2 separate regions of the Homo sapiens genome follow, and region 1 is linked to region 2. A link means that fine-mapping ties the variant in region 2 to the expression of a gene that starts in the linked region. Tissue or cell type: whole blood. Region 2 holds a variant in brackets; the other region holds the start of a gene. All regions are shown on one strand. Distances are from middle to middle.

Region 1 (5,148 bases), 75 kb before region 2:
GTACATGAGATATTTTGATAACAGGCATGCAATGCATCATAATCACATCAGGGTAAATGGGTGTCCATGACCTCAAGCATTTATCCTTTCTTTGTGTTACAAGCACTCCAATTATACTCCTTTAGTTATTTTAAAATGTACAATACATTGTTGTGGACTGTAGTCACCCTGCTGTGCTCCCAAATACTAGATCTTATTCATTCTAACTCTATTTTTGTACCCACTAACCAGAATGTTCGGTATTTGTTAATGAACATGTTATGACAGGATGTTTTAGAAGAAAATAAAGAAAAAAAGAAATTCCAGCCAAGCATGGTGGCTTGATTTTATTTATTTATTTATTTTGAGATGAAGTCTCCCTCTGTCTCCCAGGCTGGAATGCAGTGGCGTGATCTCCACTCACCGCAACCTCTGCCTTCTGAGTTACATGGCTCACGCCTGTAATCCCAGCACTTTGGGAGACTGAGGTGTATTGCTTGAGGTCAGGAGTTCGAGACCAGCCTGGCCAACACAGTGAAACCGTGTCTCTACTAAAAATACAAAAAATTAGCTGGGCGTAATGGTGGGCGCCTGTAATCCCAGCTACTAGGGAGACTAAGACAAGAAAATCGCTTGAATCTGGGAGGCAGAGGTTGCAGTGAGCCGAGATCGCACCATTGCACGCCAGCCTGGGCAACAAGAGGGAAACTCTGTCTCGAAAAGAAAAAAATTATTTTTTAATTTTAATTTGTTAGTGAACAATTAGGGTTGCTGTGAGAATTGTGCCTGGCACACACAGCCATTTAAAAATCACGATCTTCAGGCAGTGTGTGGTGGCTCACGCCTGTAATCCCAGGACTTTGGGAGGCCGAGGTGGGTGGATCACCTGAGGACAGGGATTCGAGAGCAGCCTGGCCAACATGGTGAAACCCCGTCTCTACTAAAAATATAAAAATTAGCCGGGTGTGGTGATGCGGGCCTGTGATCCCAGCTACTCGGGAGGCTGAAGCAGGAGAATTGCTTGAACTCAGAAGGCAGAGGTTGCAGTGAGTGGAGATCACGCCACTGCATTCCAGCCTGGGAGACAGAGGGAGATTTCATCTCAAAATAAATAAATAAACAAAATCAAGATCATTTAACAAATACATATATTGTACTTACTAAGTTCAAATTTCTGTTCTAAACGTTTTTACAAATGCTGTTAAGTCATTTAGTCCTCTGCATAATGTCGTTTGTTTGTTTGTCTGTTCTTTAAGACGGAGTCTTGCCCTGTCGCCTAGGCTAGAGTGCAGTGGTGTGATCTCGGCTCACTGCAACCGCCACCTCCCGGTTTCCCGTGATTCTCCTGCCTCAGCCTCCTGAGTAGCTGGGATTACAGGTGCGTGCCACCACATCCGGCTAATTTTTTGTATCTTTAGTAGAGACGGGGTTTCACCATGTGCCAGGCTGGTCTTGAACTCCTGACCTCGTGATCCACCCGCCTTGGCCTCCCAAAGTGCTGGGATTACAGGCGTGACCACCGCGCCAGACCCATAATGGCGTTTTATAGATGGGGAAACGGAGTCATAGAGGCTAAACAACTTTCCCAAGACCACACAGTTAGTAAGGGGCAGGACTAGGACTCAAAGCCAAGTTTATGACCAAATTCTGGTGCACTACGTTCTCCTGCTTCTGGAGAAGATAATGATGCTGAAGATTCTACTTTTGGTGTAAAGGAGTAGGAAGGGCACGGGGCACTGCTAGCTTCAGTGGGCCTGAATCTTTGTCTTTCCTTCTGATTTGGAGAAAGTGCAAGAATGGGAAAATGCAATCGAAGTGAAGGAGAGGCCGGCGTATTTTCCTGAAATGCGCGGCCCGCAAGCCCAAACCCGTTTCCCGGGTGTCCAGGCAGCGTTCTGCAGCATCTCCAATGCCCGCCAGCCCGCCGCAGCCCAGCGCCCGGCAGCCGGCGCCTCTCAAACCCCCTCCGGCCAGGAGCCTTCGCCGCTTGGCCGCGCCGCGCCCGGCCTGGGAAAAAAGTTTCCAAACGACGCTGCTCTGCGCTGATTGGCCGAGGCGGACGCGGTACCGTAGAGCAGCAGCCAATGGGAGGCGCCGACCGCAGGCTCCGGGGCGGGGGCGGGGTCCGGAGGGCCGGGGCCGCACCGCCCTTCGCAGCCGCCTCTGCCGCCGCCGCCGCGTTGGCCTCGCCGCCCCTGCTCGGGTAAGTGAGGCGCTGCGCGGGGCTGGGGTCGGGGTGGCTGTCCGGGGACCTCCACCGCGGCTGAAAAGCTCCTCTGCCCCGCCCCAGGATCCCGGGACCCCGGGCCACCGCCTGGCAGGGACCCCTACGCCCCTCGCTTGCGCGTCGCTTCCCGGCCGCCTGGACTCCCCCGGTCCCTGGGCTCCAAAATCCCGCCTCCCTGGAGCCTCCCGTCCTAAAAAGTTAGGCACTGAGTGCCTTGCCACCGGTGCGTTCCTCGCGCTGGCCCCTCGCCCTTGGCAACTTTGTTTCTCTTTCTGCGTTGGTCTCTCTCCCACCCCGTTGCCCTCTTCTCCTTCCGGGACTTCCTGGGTGGTTAAGCCTTGCCGGTCCCCAAACCCCGCTGCCAGGCTCCATCCTCTTTCTCCTCTTCCTTCCTCCCCATACTCCTCTCCTAGATGACCCTCGTTTCTTTTCTCTCTCTCTCCTATTCCTCCATCCTGCCACCCGCTTCTCTGCGACCCCAGACCCCTCGATTGCAGCGTTGCCCCTGCCCTCACACCCACTGTCCCGCCCCTGCAGGCCTCTTTCCAAAAACCCACCCTGCTCCCTCCCTCCGGGAACACGTTTGGGGCAGTCTGCTCTCCGCTTTGCTCCCGTCTCTGCCGCAGGACGGTTCAGGTTTCTTCTGACAGCACTTTGGGGAGGGATTGGGTAAAGGACGAAAATGCTTATTCCGCAGCTTGAGTGATGGCTGGGCTCACTGAGGACCTGAGTCTCTGAGGTCCTGGGAAACCCCGCTGTCACCTTGACACCGCTTTTGGGGAGGCGACTTTATCTTCTCCGAGCCATCTCAGGCTTTCTGCCTCCTGAGGGCCTGAGCTTCCTTGATTGCTTTGTCCGTGGTTACTACCAGGTTGTGCCTCTTAATTTCTACTTTGAGCCTCAGGCCCCTTTTAACTTTCTAAAGAAAAGGCCTTTGCAGCACGACCTAGGCAGGTTCATCATTTTTAGTTTTGTTATAGTGTATTCTAGCATAGGATGGCATTTTAGGACATGGGTCGGGTGTTTTGAAGATTAATTAGATCCCAGCTACTCCTAAAGCCTCTTGTTACCCGACCACCCCAGCCTCCATCACCTCGTTGGTATACAACCCGTTTTTTTTTTTTTTTTTTTGTTTTTGTTTTTGAGACAGAGTCTCACTCTCGCCCAGGTTGGAGTGCAGTGGTGCGATTTTGGCTCACTGCAACCTCCGCTTCCCGGGTTCAAGCGATTCTCCTGCCTCAGCCTCCGGAGTAGCTGGGACTACAGGTGCGTGCCACCACGCCTGGCTAATTTTTTGTATTTTTAGTAGAGATGGGGTTTCACCGTGTTAGCCAGGATGGTCTCGATTTCCTGACCTCGTGATCTGCCCCCTCGGCCTCCCAAAGTGCTGGGATTACAGGCGTGAGCCACCGTGCCGGCCTACAACCCATTTTGAGCCTTTCCTCTTAGTGTGTGTTTTGTGTAGGATTAAATGCAGATGATCTGTGCCGCTGAAGTCTCAGGGGCCTGTGATTCATATATTTTATCCCATGTTGGATAACAGTTTATTAACTTGACTTATTTTTGTTTCCAAAGTGTGTTATTTATTATTTATTTATTTATTTATTTTGAGACGGAGTCTTGTTCTTGTCCAGGCTGGAGTGCAGTGGCATGATCTCGACTCACTGCAACCTCAGTCCTCCGGGTTCAAGTGATTCTTCTGCCTCACCCTCCTGAGTAGCTGGGATTACAGGTGCGTGCCACCATGCCCGGCTAATTCTTAGTAGAGATGGGGTTTCACCATATTGGCCAGGCTGGTCTCAAACTTCTGACCTCGTGATCTGCCCACCTCAGCCTCCCAAAGTGTTGGGATTACAGGCATGAGCCACTGCACCCGACTCTATCATTATTATTATTTTTTATGTAGAGGCAGAATCTTGCTTTGTTGCCCAGGCTGGTCTCAAATTCCTGGGCTCAAGCAGTCCTCCTGCCTTGGCCTCCCACAGTGCTGAGATTACTTGCAGGCATGAGCCACTGCATGCAGCCCAAAGTGTGTTCTTTTGCCTTAGAATGTGAGCCGAGAATTGACACTCCTTTTCCTCACAAGGTAATTTCCTAACATGAGCATTCCTGTGTACAGAAAGTTTGTGCCTGCAGTTAGTACTACACGTGCACCTCGTGCAATGGATGTGGGTGCTTTTTGTCTGCCTCCTTCAGCAGTGCCCAGCACTTAGTAGGTATTCAAGAAATGTTTGAAAAGGGTTGGAGGAGGCAAAACCACAGTAGGAAAAATTCTTTCCCTGTCACTTGGTTCAGTAGAATAAAATTATCCTGGAACAATAGCTATTTTACTTTTTGTCCAAGTTTTTGTTTGTTTGTTTTTTGAGACGGGATCTCACTCTGTCGCCCAAGCTGGAACACAGTGATGCAATCACAGCTCACTGCAGTCTCGACCTCTCAGGCTCAAGCAATCCTCTTGCCTGAGCCTCCCAAGTAGCTGGGACTAAAAGCACATGCCACCATGCTTGGCTAATTTTTAAAATTTTTTGTAGAGATTGGGGTCTCACTATGTTGCCCAGGCTGGTCTCGAACTCCTGGGTTCAAGCGATCCTTCCGCCTCAGCCTCCCAACGTGCCGGGGTGGGAGAGAGCCACCGCGCCTGGCCTAAGCTTTTTAAAATCTCTAAAGCGATCTATGCTTACTGTATATATGTGTATGTAGTTTACCTTAAAGCAAGGTGTCAGGTACAAATCCACAGGGCTTGCTTTACCCCCATTCTGGTGCATCCTCCAGACCCTTTTCTATTCTGTGTACAGAGAGAGGGAAATAAACAAAAATGGGCACCCATTTTTAACATATCCTGAGCTTTCTTCCATATTAGTACTTACAGTTCTTAACAACTGCATCGTTTTCCATTCAGTCCTCTGTTGACATTGAGGTTTCCAGTTTTCCACATTCGTGAA
Region 2 (5,148 bases):
AACTAAATCATATTTACTAAATAATAATGTATCTTAAAAGTTGGTATTTAGGGGTTTGGGTCATACAGGGGTCTCCATTTATCGTACAATTAAGATTTGTGAATCTCATCACATGTAAGTTTTACCCCAAAAGAAGCAAAATTGTGTTTAAAAATAAACTCTAATTAATATGCAATGTTGAGGTGTGGAAGGGGAAATGTACTGACATCTGTAATTTGCTCTGAAATGTACCCAAGAGATAAGGCATGATAGATAGAATTAGTCTTTATAAATAAATATGTGGGCCGGGCATAGTGGCTCATACCTATAATCCCAGCACTTTGGGAGGCCAAGGCAGGCAGATCATGTGAGGCCAGGAGTTGGAGACCAGCCTGGACAACATGGCAAAACCCCATCTCTACTAAAAATACAAAAATTAGCCAGACATAGTGGTGTGCTCCTATAATCCCGGCTACATGAAAGGCTGAAGCAGGAGAATCGCTTGAACCCAGTGGTGGAGGTTGCGGGGAGCTGAGATCACACCACTGCACTCCAGCCTGGGTGACAGAGCTAGATCCTGTCTCAAAATAAGTATCTGATAAAGTTCATATAATACAGTGTCAATGACTGAATCCAGGTGGTGGCCTTAAAGGTGTTCACCGTACAATTCTGTCAACTTTGCTGTGTACTTGGAATTTTACAGAATGAAATCTTAGGGAAGAGTGGTATTAAAAGTATAGAAACTGAATTACTTGGAATACTACTCAATAGGTATTCAGTAAATACATTTAGTGAATAAATAAGCACCTCATTCCTTCTTCAGGCTAGAAACTAAGGCATCACCATGTGTGCAGGTGACCCTCATGGTGCTGGTACCCAGAAAAGTCACAGTCATCAAGGCTTCTTTGCCATCCTTACTGTGACCTGGTAGCGTTAATGCTCCATGGTCGCCCAAGACAAGATAAGACAGCCTCCCATGGCTCCCCACAGAGTGGAGAGGGGATGCAGGCACAGGCCAGAGCCACGCGTCATACTCTGCAGAGCTGATTCCCCAACCCAGCGTCCATGGCCAGAGTGGGGGACACCCCACGCCCTCTACCTGATCAAATTTCCTCTGCTTCTTTTCCAGGTTGGACACGAGTTGCCGCTGGTTGTCCAAATCAACAACCAGGTCGTCCAGCTCCTGCTGAAGCCTGTTCTTGGTCTTTTCCAGTTTATCATAAGCGGCCGCCTTCTCCTCGTACTGCTGGGTGAGGTTCTCGATCTCCTTCTGGAACCTCTTCTTCCCCTCTTCCAGAGCTTCCACGGTGCTGGCAAAGTCCTGCAGCTTCTTCTTCGAGTCGGAGAGCTACAAGGACAGCGTCCAGGGTAGGGTGAGAGGGGGACCATGAGTGGCCCCTGTCCCTGGCCCCACAGACTCTGAGAAGCGAAGACCATGTCTCCTCGTTGGAGAAACCCAATAGCAGGGGAAGCTGGGGGGTCAAGCACCATCGCACCAACACTCCACCGCGATCTGCCTGCGGGGGATCTCAGCGCAGAGAAGTTGAGAGGACCCATGAAGGAAGCAAGGACACGGGGCAGGCACCTGGATGTTGAGAGTGGAGATGTGGCGCTCCAGGTTCTGCTTGGCCTCCATCTCCTCGTCCAGCTGGTCTTGCAGGCTGTTCCGCTCCTCCTCCAGCTGGCGCAGCTTCGTAGACACGTTGAGCTTCTGCCGGGTTTCTTCTTGAAGCAGCTCCTGCAAAAGGGATGCAAAGAGGTCCCAGGGACCTGCCCCGAGGAAGGCCACCCCCCAGGTCCCCTGGATGATGTGGCAGGACACTCACCTGGGTGTCCTGGAGCTGGGAACTGAGGGACGCCACGTCCTTGGCCAGCTTAATGGCCTTCCCCTCGGCCTCGTTAAGCATCCCTGTGACGCTCTCAACTTCATTCTAAGGGTGCCAAGAGACTGGTTAGTCAAAGCCTCTAGAAGGGGATCCTCGTTGAAAGGAGCCCTTTTTACTCAAAACACATGGGCTAGTACTTGAGGTGTTCACTGATTGAGAAAATACCCGTGAGGTATGGGACTCTGATAAAAAAAAAAAAAAA[C/A]ACACACACACACAAAAAAAACAGAATCTGTGGCTTGAAGGGAACTCCGTCACCTATGAGTTGGGACCCTGGCCCTAGACTCTGTGGTTCTAAGAACTTATTTGAGCCCCAATGGTATTGACTGGGACCTGATCCCACTAAATGGATCCTAGATCCCTGCCAAGGTTGGTAGAGACAAAGCAGCAGGTCTGAGAGTCCAGACGAGGTGCTCTGGCTGGTCCACTCTCTAAGGCTGGAGAAGGGAGACCAGGATGGTACTTGAACGTCCCAGGGATGCTGTCCCATCCCTTCCTTCCTCACTCCTACTCTTTGACCCTGATGGCCAAAGCCAGAGACGCAGGCCCTAAAGGTAAAAACGTCCTCTCTGTATTCTCTGGCTTTTACTCCCTAGTGTCTCTGCATAAGTCCCTTTGAGGCTGTTAGCCTACCCCTCCATCTCTTCCATTGACAAGGAGGATATGAATGATCTTGACACTGCTTATATGAGGGCGGCAAAAGCCCTGCTCTCAACTGCATGTGAGAAAAAAACATCTCACTTAATTCTTCCCTCGCCCCTTGGTCCCTGGCTGTGGACATGTTAAACATTTGTGAAAACTTTGGCCACGTCCCCATGAGTGGCAAGGCAGGGTAAATGGCTATGCCAAGTGAAAGAAGACCAAAGACAAAAAGACCATGTCATTCAGCAGCTTAAAACCCCTCAACAGCTTCACATTGCCCAGAGTAAGGATCAACATACATGTAATAGGTTCTCAAAAGCCCTACATCATCTGGGTACAAGCTCCCCCTCCAACCCCACTCTGTACTATCTCCCCCTACCCCCAACCCCAGCTGGGCACTCCAGCTCTACTGGCTGTATGTCTCTCTCCTAATTTTTCTACTTACCACAGGGCCTTTGCACACGCTGTTCCCTCTGCCTGGTAGACTTATCCATGCTCCTTAGGGAAGCCTTTCGTGGCTCCTCCTCCCCCAGGTTAGGCCCCCTGGTTATTTACACTTGGGCATCATGTGCCTTCCCTTTGCTGCATCATTTGACATTCATTTGTGTGATTATTCATGTCTTTCCCTTCCCTTCCCTTCCCCTTACTCGGCTGGAGTCCTACTGGGGCAGCGACAGTGTCTCTTCTTCCTTGCTGTTGGATCTCAGGATTAAGCACAGTGCCTGGCATACAGCAGGTGCTCAATAAATACTTATCAAATTGGAAAAGGAAGGGTTTTTTTTCTTTTTTTTTTTTTTTCCTGAGACAGAGTTTTGCCCTTTTAGCCCAGGCTGGAGTACAATGGTGCGGTCTCCGCACACTGCAACCTCTGCCTCCTGGGTTCAAGCTATTCTCCTGCCTCAGCCTCCCGAGTAGATGGGACTACAGGTGCCCACGACCACGCCTGGCTAATTTTTGTATTTTTAGTAGAGACTTTTCACCATGTTGGCCAGACTGGTCTCAAACCCCTGACCTCAGGTGATCCACCCACCTCTGTCTCCCAAAGTGCTGGGATTACAGGCATGAGCCACCGTGCCTGGCCAGAAGGTTTTTTTAATATTTAATTGAACAGGGAGATCATCGCCTCTCCTCCAGGAACGCAACTAGAGGAAAGGACTTGCCTTGCAGCAAGAGAGACCTCAGCGAGCCGGGAAGAGGCTCCTCCCCACAGAACTGGGCACCACCCAGCACTGCCCACCACACCACCGCGCCACCTCCTCACCTGCAGCTTGTGGACTTTGTCATTGAGCTCCGCCCGGGCCCGCTCCCCATCGCTGCACTTGGACTGCAGCTCCTGCACCTGCGCCTCCAGCTTCTTCTTCTTATGTTCCACCTCCTGCTTGGCCTGGCCCAGGACCCGCAGCTCCCCGGCCAGGTCTGCGTTCTCTTTCTCCAGCGTCTGCTTATTCTTGTCTAGGTTCGCCTTGGCCTGGCGAAGGAAGCAGAGGGGAGGGATAACAGGGAGGCTGTGGCCGGGAGAACGTTTCAGGCCCTGCCCTTTCCTCCCTCAGAGAGGTCCAGGAAGGCACACAACAGGGGGCACACAATCACCAGTAAGAGATTTGGGGTTTTTTTGTTGTTATTTTTTTTTTGAGATGGAGTCTTAACTCTGTTACCCAGGCTGGAGTGCCGTGGCACAATCTTGGCTCACTGCAACCTCCGCCTCCCAGGTTCAAACTATTCTCCTGCCTCAGCTGCCCAAGTAGCTGGGATTACAGGCGCCCGCCACCATGCCCGACTAATTTTTGTATTTTTAGTAGAGACGAGGTTTCACCATGTTAGCCAGGCTGCTCTCGAACTCCTGACCTCAAGTGATCCACCCATCTTGGCCTCCCTAAGTGCTGGGATTACAGGCGTGAGCTGCCGCACCCAGCTGATATTTTGGATTCTATTTTCCTAAAGCTCATGGGTTGCAATCTGGAATCCCACAAGCGGTATCCAACCTGCTGACATGTCCCCTTTGACCCTTTCACTACTTTTAAAAAAATGAGTTGCCGACATTTTAATAAATGTCACATAAAAATCTGGATTCCCAGCTTCTTTTTCAAAAAACTTTAATGTTTGAAGGCATGCCATGGCAGCTCATACTTGTCATCCCCAGCACTTTGGGAAGCAGGCAGAAGGATCGCTTAAGGCCAGGAGTACAAGACCAGCCTGGGCAATGTAGTGAGACCCCCATCTCTACTAAAATAAAACATTAGCTGGGTGTGGGGGGCACACACCAGCAATCCCAGCTACTCAGGAGGCGGATGGCAGGCTTGCTTGAGCCCAGGAATTGGAGGCTGCAGTGAGCTATGATCACACCACTGCACTCCAGCCTGGGCAACAAAGTGAGACCCTGTTTCAGAAATAAGTAGCTTTGGGAGGCCAAGGCAGGTGGATCACTTGAGGTGAGGAGTTCGAGACCAGCCTGGCCAACATGGCGAAACTGCATCTCTACTAAAAATGGAAAAATTAGCCGGGCATGGTGGCGCACGCCTGTAGTCCCAGCTACTGGGGTGGCTAAGGCACAAGTATTGCTTGAACCTGGGAGGTGGAGGTTGCAGTGAACCAAGATCATGCCACTGCATTCCAGCCTGGGTAACAGAGTGAGACTCCATCTCAA

What was found. PIP is the estimated chance that this variant, and not a neighbour inherited with it, causes the effect.
Region 1: it holds the start of NDE1, and the variant in region 2 is fine-mapped to the expression of NDE1 in whole blood (INTERVAL, PIP above 0.99).

What each region holds. Positions count from the first base shown.
Region 1 is chr16:15,648,113-15,653,260 of GRCh38, forward strand. It overlaps NDE1 (nudE neurodevelopment protein 1), which reads left to right and starts at 2,133. Exons shown (of 9, transcript NM_017668.3): 1 at 2,133-2,182. RefSeq lists enhancers at 1,834-2,335, 2,336-2,835.
Region 2 is chr16:15,723,083-15,728,230 of GRCh38, forward strand. NDE1 (nudE neurodevelopment protein 1) reads left to right here. Exons shown (of 9, transcript NM_017668.3): 9 at 1,109-3,271. The coding sequence ends at 1,169. It overlaps MYH11 (myosin heavy chain 11), which reads right to left. Exons shown (of 41, transcript NM_002474.3): 28 at 3,766-3,972; 29 at 1,806-1,910; 30 at 1,565-1,717; 31 at 1,079-1,327. Among named protein-coding and RNA genes, the nearest start is that of NDE1, 75 kb to the left of the region's middle. The variant C/A (reference allele first, on the strand shown) is at 2,068.